Linked DNA regions of Homo sapiens: region 1 is linked to region 2. Evidence: fine-mapped expression QTL. Tissue or cell type: sun-exposed skin. Region 2 holds a variant in brackets; the other region holds the start of a gene. All regions are shown on one strand. Distances are from middle to middle.

Region 1 (8,090 bases), 290 kb after region 2:
GTAGGAGGGGAAAAAGACATTTCAGGCAAAGGAAAGGATGTGCAAAGACAAAGAGGAATGGTACAGTACTGGCAAGGAATTGGCAATTAGTTTGGAAATGCTAAAATTTAGGATGAGAAAAATGGAATAAGGACAAAGAATGATGGTGGAGAAAAAGGCAAGGACCAGATTATAAAAGCTTTGTATACCACTGAAGATATCTGGATTTTATTCTTTGGTTAACAGGAAGCCATAAAAGAGTTCTAAGCAGGGAGGTAATATGATAAAATCTTTTTTATTATTATTTTTTTTTGAGACAGAGTTTCGCCCTTGTTGCCCAGGCTGGAGTGCAATGGCACGATCTCGGCTCACCGCAACCTCCGCCTCCCGGGTTCAAGCGATTCTCCTGCCTCAGCCTCCTGAGTAGCTGGGATTACAGGCATGTGCCACCACGCCCGGCTAATTTTGCATTTTTAGTAGAGATGAGGTTTCTCCATGTTGGTCGGGCTGGTTTTCGATTCCTGACCTCAGGTGATCCGCCCACCTCAGCCTCCCAAAGTGCTGGGATTACAGACGTGAGCCACCGCACCCAGCCAATAAAATCTATATGTAGAGAAATAAGTCATGGCCATGTGAAGAATTCATACTGACTCAATATACTTATGCACATAAACCTATACATGATTTACATATAGTGACAGCGGCTACTCTGGGCACAGTGGCCTATGGGGTAGCCCTGCTCTGCAATGAACAGTACAAATTTAAAAAAAAAGATAGATACAGTCAGAGCTAGACTGGCTGGGTGTGACGGGTCACACCTGTAATCCCAGAATTTTGGGAGGCTGAGGTGGGAGGACTGCTTGAGCCCAGGAGTTCGAGACCAGCCTGGGCAACATAGTGATAACCCGTCTCTACAAAAATTTCTTTTAAAAATTAGCCAGGTCGGCTGGGCGCAGTGGCTCACGCCTGTAATCCCAGCACTTCAGGAGGCTGAGGTGGGTGGATCACGAGGTCAAGAGATCGAGACCATCTTGGCCAACATGGTGAAACCCCGTCTTTACTAAAAATACAAAAATTAGCTGGGCGTGGTGGCATGCGTCTGTAGTCCAGCTACTCGGGAGGCTGAGGCAGGAGAATCTCTTGAACCCGGGAGGCAGAGGTTGCAGTGAGTTAAGAGTGAAACTCCGTCTCAAAATAAATAAATAAATAAATAAATAAAGGGCTGGGCGTGGTGGCTCTCACCTGTAATCCCAGCACTTTGGGAGGCCAAGGCGGGCCTCCTGAGGTCAGGAGTTCAAGACCAGCCTGACCAACAGACCAACATGGAGAAACCACATCTCTACTAAAAATACAAAATTAGCCGGGCATGGTGGCACATGCCTGTAATCCCAGCTACTCAGGAGGCTGAGGCAGGAGGATCATTTGAATCCAGGAGGCGGAGGTTGCGGTGAGCCAAGATCGTGCCATTGCATTCTAGTCTGGGCAACAAGAGCGAAACTCCATCTCAAAAAAAAAAAAATTAAATATATGATTAAAAAAGGATCCTATACACTCCAAAGTCAACTCCCTAACTGATATGACAAAAATTACCAATAAAGGCAGGGATGCTGAGAATCAGGAAGCCCACATTATTCTGCATTAAATACAGACTCTAGTACAAAGGAGAAAATACCATCATGTTATTAAGAGAATGACACCCAACCCAATTAACCCAAAAAGGTCTCTTTGGGATAAAGTAGCAACAAAAAATTGTTATTCTAATACCAATACCCAATTGTCTCAGACACCTACGACACTTGTGATGCCATAGTCTTCTTCATTCGTTCAGTTCTCTCTATCAGTCCCTCCTTTGAAAGAGATGATATGCGTGCATCACCCTCAGGAGGAACATAGGCATCAAATATACCAGCTGTAATAAAGGAAGAAAAAAATTAAGAAAGTGTTGAAAGATTGAGAAAAACTCATAAAATTGAAGTAATGTAAAATTGGGAAGGATTGTGGATATGAAGTAGACTAATGAAACAGACTTCCATGTAGAGAGAACTATGTTACACTAGAAAAAAACAAAACAAGGCCGGGCACAGTGGCTCACACCTGTAATCCCAGTACTTTGGGAGGCCGAGGCGGGCGGATCACAAAGTCAGGAATTCAAGACCAGCCTGGCCAAGATGGTGAAACCCCATCTCTACTAAAAATACAAAAATTAGCCGGGCATGGTGGCAGGTGCCTGTAATCCCAGCTACTTGGAAGGCTGAGGTAGGAGAATCGCTTGAACCCAGGGGGGCAGAGGTTGCAGTGAGCCCAGATTGTGCCACTGGGCGACAGAACGAGACTCTGTCTCAAAAAACAAAACAAAACAAAACAAAAAAAGCCAGAAAGATTTAAGTCTTCTCTCAGAGCCTCAGTTTCTACTTCCACAAAATGGAGAAATTTCACTCTTGCCTTCTAGGGACAGTGTGAAAGTAAGTTCAAAGAACAACTTCATGATATATAGTGTATATAAGGTTAATCATTATTGAGGTTGAACTGACTTCGTGCTTAATTAAATATTATCAATCATAGTCCAAGTCATCCCAAGTTCCAGAAGATCTCTGACAGAAGGATCCCAGGTCAGGGTCCCAGAAATACCTCACCTGTACAGGCCAGATGTATGGAACGGTCCGATTTTTCTGGAGGAATAACCAATCCTGCTTTCCGGGCATGTTGCATAAACTCCTTTTCTGTTTTAAATTTAGGTTGATAAATAGGAGGTGTGAAACGTTTTTTAGTTCTTACTGGAACTATAGCTGCGGACTGAGTCACCAGAACTGGCTGGAAGGTAAAGGAAAGGTTAGGAACCTAGAAAAAAGATCTACTATCTTTTACAAACTCTAAGCAAAGCACTATAGAGAGGGAATATCCAAAGAATGCTTCAGGAACAATTATAAAACAATATCACAGGGAAAAAATGCATTAGGACCTTAATACTTATGGGTGTCTCTAAATAGAAGACAGTTAGCAACCTTTATTAACATCACATTTACTAAAGGCTTTCCTTTAGAACTTCCCACAGTACAGGACTATGCTAACTCCTACGGATACTGAGTTGATCAAAGCAAGTTTCAAAAACTGATGGTGATGGGGAAACACCAACTCAATACTGAAATGGGCAGAATACTATTCTTTATTATTTTTTGAGGCAGATCGCTAGCCTAGAGTGCGATGGCACGATCACGGTTCACTGCAGCCTTGACCTCCTGGGCTCTAGCTATCCTCCCACCGCAGCCTCCCAAGTAGCTGGGACTAAGGAGTGCGCCATCGCATCTGGCTAATTTTAAAATTTTTTTGTAAAGACCAGGTCTTATATGTTGCCCAGGCTCATTTCGAACTCCTGGGCTCAAGCCATCCTTCTGCCTCGGACTTTCAAAGTGCTGGGATTACAAGTGTGAACCACCGCGCCGGGCCCTGAATGCTATGCTTAAAGCATAAGCAAAGTCCTCTTGTAGGCATCTGCTCCATATGTACTCGTGATATTTTGCTCATCCTATCGGGAGTCTCGCTGTAAACTTTATTCTGTCGTTTTAGCACCCAACTGACCAATAAACCCTCGAAAGATCAGGAGATCTTTTCTCTCTGATCATGAGGTTTGCTCAGACGGGGCAGTGACAATATGGGACGCCCTCATTTTCGGCTACTCTTCAACGTAGTTCACTTATAAGAATCGAAGATTAGGGAGTCCACCTTCCAACCCATTACTTGTCTCTCCTTTAATATCTCCTCGCCAGACAGACCCAAACCAATCCGGAAAAACTTAATATCCGTTAATTCACTCGCTCTCATGGCCCTGTCTAGGCTATCCCCATTCGACCACTGAGCTCCGCAGCTAGGTCCTGTCCACCTAAGCCTCTTCCCCGGCCTAGGTATGACTCGTATTGTCCCAGCTCACCAAGGACAATTGCACAGAGAGTATTTCCCTCGACTCTGTCCTCTCCTGTAGCCCCTAGGGTCCTATCGGCCCCGTCCCTACCCACCTGCCGAGACCACCAGCCCAAAAACCTCGATAAACAAGAGAACCCTTGAGGTATGGGGGCTGCCATCTTGTTCCCGCAAAGGCCGCCGGGAAGGGAGCTGAGAGTGAAGAGCGTCGGGTAGGAGAAAAGCCGCATAGGGTGGAGCTAGCACAGGAGTGGAATTTTCCAGGGAGCGCGCCCTCCGCCGAAATGTGAGCAGCGAGGACGCGCACGTGCTCGCGGGAGTGGGGGAGGGTGGAGTAAGGAGGGCGGAGTACGGCCGCGCGTGCGCAGGGAGACAACGTTGGGCGTAGGGTGGAACGAACTGTTGTCCCCCGCCAGCGAGAGAGCGCTTGAACGCGAGCTGCGCCTGCGCCCGAGGCTTTCTGAAGGCCGGGGAATGGGCATTGCTGTATGCTTGGCACATTGCCGTTTATTCCATTAGTTAAAAAAGGAAAAGGAGGCCGGGCGCGGTGGCTCACGCCTGTAATCCCAGCACTTTGGGAGGCCGAGACCGGTGGATCACCTGAAGTCAGGAGTTCGAGACCAGCCTGGCCAAAATGACGAAACCCCGTCTCTACTAAAAATACAAAAATTAGCCGGGCGTGGTGGCACACGCCTGTAGTCCCAGCTGCTTGTAAGGCTGAGGCAGGAGAATCGCTTGAACCCAGGAGGCAGAGGTTGCAGTGAGCCGAGATCGCGCCACTGACTCCAGCCAGAGCTAGACTCCGTCTAAAAAAAAAAAAAAAAAATTAGTCGTAGGGTGGAACGCACGGTTGTCATGCGCCAGCAAGAGAGCGCCGGGCTTGGTGGCAGGCGGCTGTAGTCTGAGCTACTTGGGAGGCTAAGGCAGGAGAATCCCTCGAACACAGGAGGCGGAGGCTGCAGTGATCCGAGATCCCGCCACTGCACTCCAGCGTCGGTGACAGAGAAAGACTTTGTCTCAAAAAAAAACAAAAAAAGAGATTGACTACTGTCTTCTACTATGTTTACTAAAGCAGAAGACACGTGAATTGACAAAAACATTTGTGATTTGTCATTTCGGAAAGGAGTCACAGAGCAATTACGTAATTTACTTAAGGTTAGATAGATGATAACTGGCAGAACCGAGATTTGAATCTAAGCAGTCTAATTCCAGAACCCATGCAGGTAACTGCTACGTGCTGCTTCATGTTAAGTTGTTAAAGGATTCGTGATGTTGGGATCACCCTGGTAAATTCAGTAGTGTAAACGTTGCTGAAAGGCAGACACTTTCCACACTTAGCCGTTGGTTATTATTCTGCCAATTACAGCTTACAGAGTTCTCATCTACAATATTTTGCAATAAGTTAGGAGCTACAGGCTGTACATACAAGAAATTTCAGGCTGAAGTAGAATTGCTACAAAGGTCGAAGCAAAGTGCTGGGGACTATCAGAAGAACTGAAAGATTACTTTTGGGTTTGGAGATCACGTGTTGTTGTTGTTTTTGGAGACGGAGTCTCACTCTGTCACCCAGGCTGGAGTGCGGTGGCACAATCTCGGCTCACTGCAACCTCTGCCTCCCAGGTTCAAGCGATTCTCCTGCCTCAGCCGCCAGAGTAACTGGGATTACAGGTGCACGCTGCCATGCCCGGCTAATTTTTTCTAGTTTAGTAGAGACGAGGTTTCACCGTGTTGCCCAGGCTGGTCTCCAACTCCTGAGCTCCGGCAATCCGCCCACCTCGGCCTCCCAAAGTGCAAGGATTACAGGCGTTTTTTAAAGCTTGACTTCGCAGCTATATCGTACATTCTTATGTGGTAAGTATTTCCCTACAAGTTCCAGCCACAGTATTGAACCTATAGCACGACACATTAATAGTGACATGAAATTAGTGCTGTATGTATGTGTTGAAGAGTATGTGGGGTCGTGTGGGGTGGCTCACACTTGTAATCCCAGCACTTTGAGAGGCGGAAGTGGGTTAGATCCCTTGAGTCCAGGAGTTCAAGACCAGCCTGCCCAATATGGCAAAACCCTATCTCTACAAAAAAATTAAAAAATTAGGCCGGGTGCGGTGGCTCACACCTGTAATCCCTGCACTTTGGGAGGCCGAGGCAGGCGAATCACGAGGTCAGGAGATTGAGACCATCCTGGCTAACATGGTGAAACCCCGTCTCTACTAAAAATACAAAAAAAATTAGCCGGGCATGGTGGCAGACGCCTGTAGTCCCAGCTACTCCAGAGGCTGAGACAGGAGAATGGAGTGAACCTGGGAGGCGGAGCTTGCAGTGAGCCGAGATTGTGCCACTGAACTCCAGCCTGAGCGACAGAGCAAGACTCCGTCTCAAAAAAAAAAAAAAAAAAAAATAGCTGGGCATGGTGGCCCCAGCTACTGGGGAGGCTGAGGTGGGAGGATGGCTTAAGTCCAGGAGGCAGAGGTTGCAGTAAGCCAAGATCCCACCACTGCACTCCAGCCTGGGCAACAGAGCTATTCAGTGCCTATAGAAGCATAGGGAAACAAGAAAAAAGAAAAAAATAGAATATATGTTATTAAGCATTTAAATAAGCTATATCTGATTATTTAACAGACTCCTGTCCACCTACTCTAATCCCTAGAAAATAAAACATGATTTTTTTTTTCTCTTGAGACAGTTTTCACTCGTCAGCCAGGATGGAATGCGATAGCGCAATCTTGGCTCGCTGCAACCTCCATCTCTCGGGTTCAAGTGATTCTCCTGCCTCAGCCTCCCAAGTAACTGGGATTACAGGTGCCCACCACCACGCCCAGCTAATTTTTTGTATTTTTAGTAGAGATGGGGTTTCACCATGTTGGCCGGGATGGTCTCAAACTCCTGACCTCAGGTGATCCGCCCACCTCGGCCTCTCAAATTGCTGGGATTACAGGGGTGAGCCACCGTGCCCGGCCAAAACATGAATTATTTTTACTGGTATTCCCAACCAAAGTGAGGAAAGTTTACTCCATGGATGAGAGGTGTTTTTTTTGTTTGTTTTTTTGTTTTTTTTCAGATGCAGTTTCACTCTGTCATCCAGGCTGGAGTGCAATAGCTCGATCTCAGTTCACTGCGACCTCTGCCCCCTGGGTTCAAGCGATTCTCCTGCCTCAGTCCCCCGAGTAGCTGGGATTACAGGTGCCTGCCACTATGCCTGGCTAATTTTTGTATTTTTAGTAGAGATAGGGTTTCACCACATCGCCAGGCTGATCTCTAATTCCTGACCTCAGGTGATCCATCTGCCTCGGCCTCCCAGAGTTCTGGGATTACAGGCGTGAGCCACCGCGCCTGGCCAAGATTATTGATTAATGCAGAACATTAATATAATTTATCTTAGATTACTTCCTCCACCATTGAGTTTTATGTTAGCCTCACACAGTAGCCAACACATCCCAGATCATCTCTGCCCACCCTCTGATCAGTTTCTCAGTTAATACAAACTTGTTCCATATCAGCCTGGATGAAATAATGATAGGGGAGTCAATATCATTTAATTGCTTAGAGATGAGCTATAAGTTAGTTTTGTTGTTGTTTGATGAGCTACTGTTTTGGAAAATTCATATCTTCCTACCTCATCAGCTTCATGGAAAATTGGGAGCTGGCCAGGCACAGTGGCTCACGCGTGTAATCCCAGCACTTCGGGAGGCTGAGGCAGGCAGATCACCTGAGGTCAGGAGCTCAAGACCAGCCTGACCAACATGGAGAAACCCCGTCTCTACTAAAAATACAAAAAATTAGCTGGGCGTGGTAGCGGGCGCCTGTAATCCCAGCTCTTCGGAAGGCTGAGGCAGGAGAATTGCTTGAACCCGGGAGGTGGAGGTTGCGGTGAGCCGAGATCATGCCATTGCACTCTAGCCTGGGCAACAAGAGCAAAACTCAATCCCCCCCAAAAAAAAAAAAAAAAAAAAAAAAGAAGAAAATTGGGAGCTGTCTGTTAGAGAAGTAACACCAAAAGGATATTTCTTTTCTTTCTTTTTTTTTTTGAGATGAAGTTTCACTTTGTTGCCCAGGCTGGCGTACAGTGGGACGATCTCGGCTCACTGCAACGTCGGCCTCCAGGTTCAAGTGATTCTCCTACCTCAGCCTCCGAAGTAGCTGGGATTACAGGTGCCCGCCACCAAGCCTGGCTAATTTTTTCTATTTTTAGTAAAGAT
Region 2 (8,103 bases):
CAGTTTCAGCTGACTGGGCCAGGAACTTCACCCCTTCCAGGCAGGAGGAGTCAGGCTGGCCCCCTGAGGTCTGAGGCTGGGGGAGGCCTGAGCGTTAGGAGCAGGAGGCAAGGAAGGTATGTTCTGGCCCTGGAACAGCGCTCTTAGGCCCTGAGCATTTGTTTTTCCTGGCACATGTGCTGTGTGGGCAGGAGGGGCACTAGCGAAGGCACTTTAGTAACAGAAGCAGAGAGGAGTCACCTGTGCTGCTCATACCTCATCTGGACCATTAGAGCAGTTCTGAAGGCCAGCAGCCAAGAGGGGTGGTGACATGGGGATTACCCAACAAAGGGTGGTGCAGATGGCTGGGGGGCTGGGCCACACAGGAAGGACCTGAGGGCTTATGACAGAAGGTTCCGGTTCAGGAGCCTCCACTCTGCTCCAAAGGGAGAGGTCATGACCTTCCCCCAGGTTCCCCTGAGGGCCATGGGCACAGACTGTGGCTCATGTTAAGGAAGGAGAAACCCCACAAGATGATTGGTGCTTTGGATGTAATGAGTTCTCCTTTCCTGGAAGTATCTAAGACCTGACTGGCTGGAGCTCCTGATTTGCAGTTCTGTCTCTGCACAGCCTGTGGCAGGGGCTGGGAGGGCTTCGTATCCAGCATAGGTACAAGAAGGCTACGAGTAGGGCTGTGGAAAGGTGGATCCCCTAGAAGGTCTTTCAGGACTGTGGGACCCCCACTTCCAGCCTAAGTTTCTGTGATCTGGGGGTGGCTCTGCTTCCTCCCTCTCCTCCAGCCCTGGGGAATAGGCCCCCCCAAGAGGACTGGGTGGATGGCGCCCAAGATTAGCTGGGAAGGAGGGTTGTTTCAGCGTTCTCTTCTTAGGGTGTAGGAAGGACAGAGGGGACCTGTGGGGCTCTGGCCTAATGGCTTAGATGAGTACTCACAGATGACCTGGTGGCAGAATCAGCATCTTCCTCAGGGGCAACAGAGTGTAGGGGAAAGAAGAAGGACATGGGCTAATGGGCTAAGCACCCCGGCAGTTGAGATCAGCCTCTTCCACTTATCAACTCTGACCTTGGACAAGTCACTCCTTCCTGAGCCTCAGTTTCTTCACCTGTAAAATAGGGGGTTTGCAACCTCACAAGGTGACTGTGAGAATGAAGAGAATGATGGCTGCACGAGCCCTTTGAGATCATCATGAATATGTGTGGGTGTTCAAGGGTGGTTATCATGGCTGGGTGCAGTGGCTCATGCCTGTAATCCCAGCACTTAGGGAGGCCAAGGCGGGCAGATCACCTGAGGTCAGGAGTTTGAGACCAGCCTGGCCAACACAGCAAAACCTTGTCTCTATTAAGAATACAAAAATTAGCCAGGTGTGGTGGCACGGGCCTGTAGTCCCAGCTACTCGGGAGGCTGAGGCAGGAGAATTGCTTGAACCCGGGAGGAGGGGTTTGCAGTGAACTGAGATTGTGCCACTGCACTCCAGCCTGGGCGACAGAGCAGGACTGTCTCAAGAAAAAGAGTGGTTATCATTTCATGGCTGGTCCATATTTCCCACAGCTTCCAGAAAGCCCGATGCTGGGTTTAACCCTCGTCACTCAAGATGGATGTGTGGATTGGAGAAGGGAGGGTGGGAGTCTTTGTGTCTTTCGCAGAAGGGGAGACAGTTTATTTTTCCTTGCCTTGAAGCCTGTGCTCCACATTCCCAGATGCTGCTCTGATGGGAGAGCTCAGGTTAGACAACAAAGAGAACTTCCACAAGATGCCCCTGCTATCTGACCAGGCCCTGGCTTCCAAAGACTGCCTGACCCAGAGGCCAAGCCGACTTGCCAAGTCTCCTGCCTTTTCCAAACTGTGAACTCCGGGCTGCCCTCGCCCCATCCTCCAGAGTCTCTCGGGATACTAACAGGGTGTCCCTAGGGAGAGAGAATCATGGGCTGCAGATTCGGCTGTTTGTTCTTAGCTAGCTTGCAGGGTGGCAGAGAAATTAACCCATGAGGTGAGAGCTAAGCCTTGGGTCCCAGCAGCCCTGTCCTTCCCCATCAGCAGAGCTGGAAGCTGGGCAGAGGCTCTCCGGCCCCCTCGCCCTGGTGGAGGCGCTGAGCACCTACAGAGGTGGAATGAGGGCTGGAGGCAACCAGGTCCCAGAGGAGGGTCTCACTCATGAACATCGCCCCATTGGCTAAGCATTGGTCAGAGTAGGTGGCCTTGAGGTTACTGGGCTGACTCCTGTATTTTAAGACATTGTGTAAACACCTCAGCAAGGGAGCCCCGAACCTGGCAAAGTGGAAAAGGAGCTGAAGATGTCGCCTCCATGAGGGACTCAGGATGGGCAAGTCCCCACTGTCTTTCACCCCAAGCTGGAGATGCATCCACCTGGCGCTTTAGCGAGCCCCAGATGCCCTGCATGAGCTGCGTGGACTGGCATGACATTCTCCCTGTCTGCGTGGCATCTAAGGTGGCAGAGTGGGGCACCCTGGTGGGCCCAGGTATGTAGACCCCTGCATGTAGACTGTCATGAATACGTGTGGGTGTTCAAGAGTGGTTATCATGGCTGGGCACGGTGGCTCACGCCTGTAAGCCCAGCACTTTGGGAGGCCGAGGCAGGTGGATCACCTGAGGTCAGGTGGAGAGTGCTGGTGAGGCAGGCTGTGACTGGGCCCATGTCAGTGAGCAAGTACTGGGCAGCCAGGCGCATGCCGAGGTGCACAGGTTTGACGTAGAAGCATGAGTGAGCAGATGTGTGTGCCTGGGCGACTGAGTGTGTGCTGGGAACCCGGAGGAATCCTGCTGGTTCTAGCGGCCGAGGGAGCTGTCTGAGTGCTACTAGGTCATAGGGCTGGGACAAGGCCTCCTAGGGAGAGCCTGTCCCCATGAAAGGTGGTGTCTCTGAGGAGGATATCAAGGGCATCTTGGCAAGGCTGGGTCTCCTGCCCAATATTGATGAGCCCGTTGATGAGTACTTGGTGTTGAAAATGCTTCCCTGTGGGGAGGCAGGATGGTGGGTGGGGCTTCCACCACTCACTTCCAACAGATTGGAGTCTCTTCCCCTGGAAACAATATGCTTCCCCCTGGGCACGCTTTCAGCCTGAGGCAGCTGCAGGGAGGGAGGAAAGATCCCTTTCACACACAGAGGGGCGCAGCACTCAGGCTGGAGTGCCCCCTGGGGAGAAGACGCCCTGGCAGCCTCCTCAGAGTGATGGCAGAGCTGAGGACAGGCACCGGCCTTCCTCCCTTCCCACCCTCCAGTGTTCCCTCCTCCCCTCCCGCTCGGCCTGTGTTCCCCTCGGCTGCCTCTCCAAGGAGATGTGGAGCTGACAGGACACCTTCCCTGGGCGCGTGAGCAGTGGAGCTGCCACACAGGAGTTAGCTGGTTAACATAGTGCCGCGTGGGCACATGCCAGGGCTGTTCTCAGCATTTCCAGCTCCAGCTTCAGACTGGGGGTGACATGCTGCCCTCCATATCTCTGCCCCCTTCCTTCCCAGGGAAGCCAATTAGCCAGATCTTCATTAGAAGCCAAAAATCACAACCCCACAGTCCTGGGTCTGATACAACTCTGACAGTGGGTGGAAGGAAATCGGGCTCCGGGGTAGATCAGAAGAAACTGACTCTGCTCACCCAGGCTCTGCAGTCTGCATGCCTGTTGCCTGTTGCCTGTTGCCTGTTATTAGCTTCTGCTTCTTCTTCTTCTTCCTTTTTTTTTTTTTTGTTAAAGCAAATGAGAGGACTGAAGCTCTGAGCATCCCCTGACCTACTCAAGGTCACATAACTAGTCAGTGGATGCAGTGGTTTTTGGTAATGTCACAGATTTGCCTGCTGTGTGTGAA[AG/G]AGGAGGGGCAGGGGGAAGAAAGAGGGTTGTATATCTGGAATTCTGGGCACGGGGCTGATTTGCACATTTTGCAAGGATGGGGAGTCTTGTCTGAATGTGCAGTTCGGATGCCCTGCGGGGACCCTGATTTCTGTGTGGTGAGCATCCCCCTGGGCTGGGGGCATCACTGGGCCATGGACCCCAGCTTTTCTCCCTGTCGGCCGGGCTGCTGCGGTGTTTCTGCCTTGCTGCTGATCCTTCCTAAGGAGGTTGTTAGTCTGTGTCCTCCTGGGGCCCGTGGCCTAGAGAGGGGCTCCCCAGGCAGCTGCTTTCTGGGAAGTGGCATCGTGGAATGGAAAAATCCTTGTCCCTGAGGGCCAGGACCCCTGGGTTCCACTTTGGGCTCTGCCTTCAGCTCCTGCAGATTGGGTCAGGCTTGTACTCTGGGTGTTGGTTTCCTGCCTAGGAAAGGCATCTGGCTGGAGAGAGAGCACTGTGGTTTCCCGACACAGGACGGGTAAGGAGGGGGCCACCTCTTCCCGAGAGCTGAGAGCTGAGGGGAGGCCCCACCTCACCACCAGAGTCTGAGAGCTGCTGTGCTGTGTGGCCTGGGGCCCTGGGGGAGAGACAGCTGCAAGCAGAAGGAAGCAAGGACTCAATAGCCATGCAGAGCCAGTGCAGTTGGTGGAGGTGGCACCGAGGCCAAGCCTGGGATCTTTGAGAGTCCCCAGGACCCCACCCCACTCCTGATGTGGTGGGTGGGCCTCCTCACCCCACCCAATTCTGCCCTTCTGGGTGGAATGGCCCTTCTGCCATAAGGGAGGCCCCAGTCTGAGGGAGGAGGTGAGGGTCCTGCCCTGGGAGTGCCCAGGTCTGTGCAAGTGGACACAGTCAGCCTGGGATGGGCGAGGAGGAAGAGCTGGGCTGGGGAAGCATCTGATGCCCGCCCCCCTCCCCGGGTGCCCACCCGCAGGGAGCTTGACCCCCTCAAATCTGCTCTCCCCATGGAAAGCCCCAGCAGCTCCACCAGTAGCAGCCAGGGCCCAGGCCCCCAGCCTCACCGCTCCTCCTAGGCAGGTGTCAGTGCCTTCCCCCAGCCTCGAAGAGGTCCTTTAATTAGATTCTGACTCGTTTACCAACTAAGTGGCCTTCAGTGGGTTTTAAATCTGCACAAATTGGTTTGTGTTTTTCTGCCTACACAAAGCTGTGACTGGCAGTGCCCTGCACCCTCCCTAGCTGCCCTTTGCATCACCTCTGCTCCCAGCTCCCTCCAGGGCTCCATCATCCCCCATCCCATTGGATGCCCAGCTTCTGTGGAGCTTGGGAAGGGGGTGGCAGTATTCCCTGGGCAGGGGGATGGAAGAGACCACAGGGTCATAGGCCACAGTCCTAGTCCCCCTTCTTACCCCCACCCCTGGGGAAGGGAGTCCATGTGGTGACTCAGATTAGATCACTCGACCTCCCTGAGCCTCAGTTTCCCTTGCTGTATGATGAGGAGAATCAGCCTGCTCCAGACCCTTCTCCATGGTGGCTTTATAGATCAGGGCTGGGAGGTGGAGGAGGGGACAACAGGTGTATCACCTGCCAAGAACCACCTGACACCTCTTGCCTTGTCCATCTCCCCCCGCCCCCATCCACTACAGTGCCCAGGGAGTGGGCAGGGCCCACGCTGGGGGGATGGCCTCGATCCTCCCTGGCCTCGACCCTCTTCTCTGTCCTCCTTGTCACCCTTGGTGGGGAGGGGAGCTGGCATTCCTTGAAGACAACTTGCCTGGCCTTGCCCCATGTCCCTAGTGCCCTGCCCTAGTCACCAGGAGTCTTTATTTTCTAGCCATCTCCTCCATGCCTTCAACTCAGCTCCTTCTCCTCCCAGGCCCTGTCTCAGGCCTTCTGTCCAGTGGGCTCCCTTCCCACTTCCTCTCTGTCTTCCCTCCTAGTCCAGGCAGACTCTCCTGAAGTGGAGCCTGACATTCAGGGGGTGGGGCTGGGCTGGCAGGGAGTGGGGATCACCGTGGGGAGGTGCAGAGTTTCTGGCCCCCGCTCTGTGCCAGGAGCTAGGCAGGAGCCCCCTGTCTCCAATCCTCAGTCCAGCTGCCTCCTTCCCCCCATCGCCCTTCCCCCATCACACGCCCTCATCTCCGAGGCTTTAGTTGGAGTGACAGGGAGACTCAACAGGGCGCTGGGTATTAGCAATTTGGGGGGATATTACACAGGAATGTTTACAGAAAGGCAATTGCCCGGAAAATGACTTTGGTTGCTGTGGTATGGGGCGGAAAAGATGGTTTTAGAAAACAGACACAGATGGGCTTCTGATCCAAGGACCCACAGCCAGCCAGCAGAAACTGAGGAGTATGGGCACACAAGGAAGGCAGAGCCAGGGGCACCCAGGGACAGGGAGGCCGATTCCTTCACTAGCAGGGGAAGCAAAGGATCCCCTCTCCTAATTCGGGTTCCCAGAGCCTCTGCCTAGTTTGATACATATCTGGTCCCGGTTGACCTTTGTCCTCTGGCCTCCAACCTCCAAGCACACCGTGTGCTTCCCGACTGCAGCAGGCACCCAGCAGGATGGAGTCATCATGCACAATCGAAGGTGGCAGTGCCTCGGGGCTCCTCCTGGCTGACTTGGGCTCCTGTAGCATTGGCTGCAGAGGAGGGACTGGGGGAGCCTCATGCTGTGTGTTTGTGTGTGTGTGTGGGTGTGGCCTAAGGCAGGCAGGTCCTCCACCCTTCCAGCTGTCTCCATGCTCCTCTCCTGCTGCCCTGCCTAGCCCCATGTCCTGTGGGCTTGTGAGTTGGTGTCTTCACCCTGAGTGCCTCCTGCCCTCGCTTCCTGCCAGGGCTATAACCCAGCTCCTACCCCTGCCCAGGCAGTGGGTCGGGGCACACATGTGACAGCCTCTCAGGTCCCCAAGGGAGGGGTTTTGTCCAGCCTCCTTATCTCCACAGAGAGGGTTACAGGGACCTGATTTCCAGATCTTGAGTTTGGGGCTGGGGAGGACTCACATCAGGGGCCCCAGAGAGTTCTCTTCTCCCTTTCCTGAGCTGGTGGCTTCGTTCTTCCTCTACTTTGTCCATTTGCCTCTCTCCTTCCTTCTCCCTCCCTCTCCTCTCCTCTCCCCGTTCTCCTCCTTTGCAGATGACATCATGTGTGAATGTTGCCCAGGGGCAGCCAGAGGACAGAGTAGAGGGTTACATCCGGGGTAAAGATGCCAGTTGGGGACCGGCTTGGTGGCTTATGAGATGGTGTCACTAAGATGTTGGGATCTTAATTCTCATAATCAGTTACAGTGATCTCATGTAAAAGAATGTGGTGGAGGATAAAAATAAATGAGGCTGATAAATAAACGTAGAATTTGGAATTGTTCGGACAAATGACAACGTCACTCTTCCCAAGCACCTGTGCCGTCCTCCTAGCCGGCCACTGGGGGGCGCCCGCCACTTCCCGGCCACCCCAGCCTCAGGCCACTTTCACCTTCCGCGTTTCCCAGGCGGGGCAGGCTGAGCTGAGGGTGGCAGAACCCGCCTTCCTCACCCTGCCCTTCCCCTCATTCGGATTCTGGATTTCGCCAGTTCTTGGCATCTTCCCTGTGGCTTGAATCTCGGACTCAAAAAATATAGTCAGCCTTGCACACTGAGGTTCCTTGGAGAAAAGAGAAGCCCTGAGCCCCCTCCCTTATGTCTCTGGTTTCCCCAACCCCATCCCTGGGTTGGGGGGAACCTTCAGGCCCAACGCCCCTCCACCAGGGTATCCTAGCTTTGCTTCCCTTCCCCCAGAGTTCCCTGCCTCCGTCTCTCTCTATCGCAATGCCCCTATCCCTCTCCCAGCAGAACCCAGCCATGCTTAAGACCCCAGCCCGGGTCTCTCATGCCCTCCCTGCCTGGAACAGGACGCATTGATCTGTGCAGGGCTGGCAGGTGCCTGGATCCGCTTGCTAGATTGGAATCGATCCCTGTGTCTTTTCCCTGGGCTGCTCAGGTCCGAGGGGGGTCAGGGCCACTCCGAGGACTTGCTGATGGCTGGAACAGGCGTAGGGGTAACAGGGAGGTCAGGCTGCTACAAGCCCATCGCTGCTCAGGAATGTCTTTCATTGAAAGCAACCTACTTTGGCCTGGCGCGGTGGCTCACGCCTGTAATCCCAGCACTTTGGGAGGCCGAGGCGGGCGGATCACCTGAGGTCAGGCGTTGGAGACCAGCCTGGCCAACATGGTGAAACTCCGTCTCTACTAAAAATACAAAAATTAGCTGGGCATGGTTGTGGGCTCCTGTAATCCCAGCTACTCAGAAGGCTGAAGCAGGAGAATTGCTTG

The links. PIP is the estimated chance that this variant, and not a neighbour inherited with it, causes the effect.
Region 1: it holds the start of MRPL45, and the variant in region 2 is fine-mapped to the expression of MRPL45 in sun-exposed skin (GTEx, PIP above 0.99).

The regions. Positions count from the first base shown.
Region 1 is chr17:38,293,149-38,301,238 of GRCh38, reverse strand. It overlaps MRPL45 (mitochondrial ribosomal protein L45), which reads right to left and starts at 4,071. Exons shown (of 8, transcript NM_032351.6): 1 at 3,990-4,071; 2 at 2,613-2,790; 3 at 1,771-1,888. The coding sequence starts at 4,055. LOC105371760 (a long non-coding RNA gene) reads left to right here and starts at 5,634. Exons shown (of 3, transcript XR_934732.2): 1 at 5,634-5,745. RefSeq lists enhancers at 3,636-4,186, 4,187-4,735.
Region 2 is chr17:38,583,651-38,591,753 of GRCh38, reverse strand. All of the region lies in intron 1 of SRCIN1 (SRC kinase signaling inhibitor 1), which reads left to right. Among named protein-coding and RNA genes, the nearest start is that of SRCIN1, 18 kb to the left of the region's middle. The variant AG/G (reference allele first, on the strand shown) is at 3,815.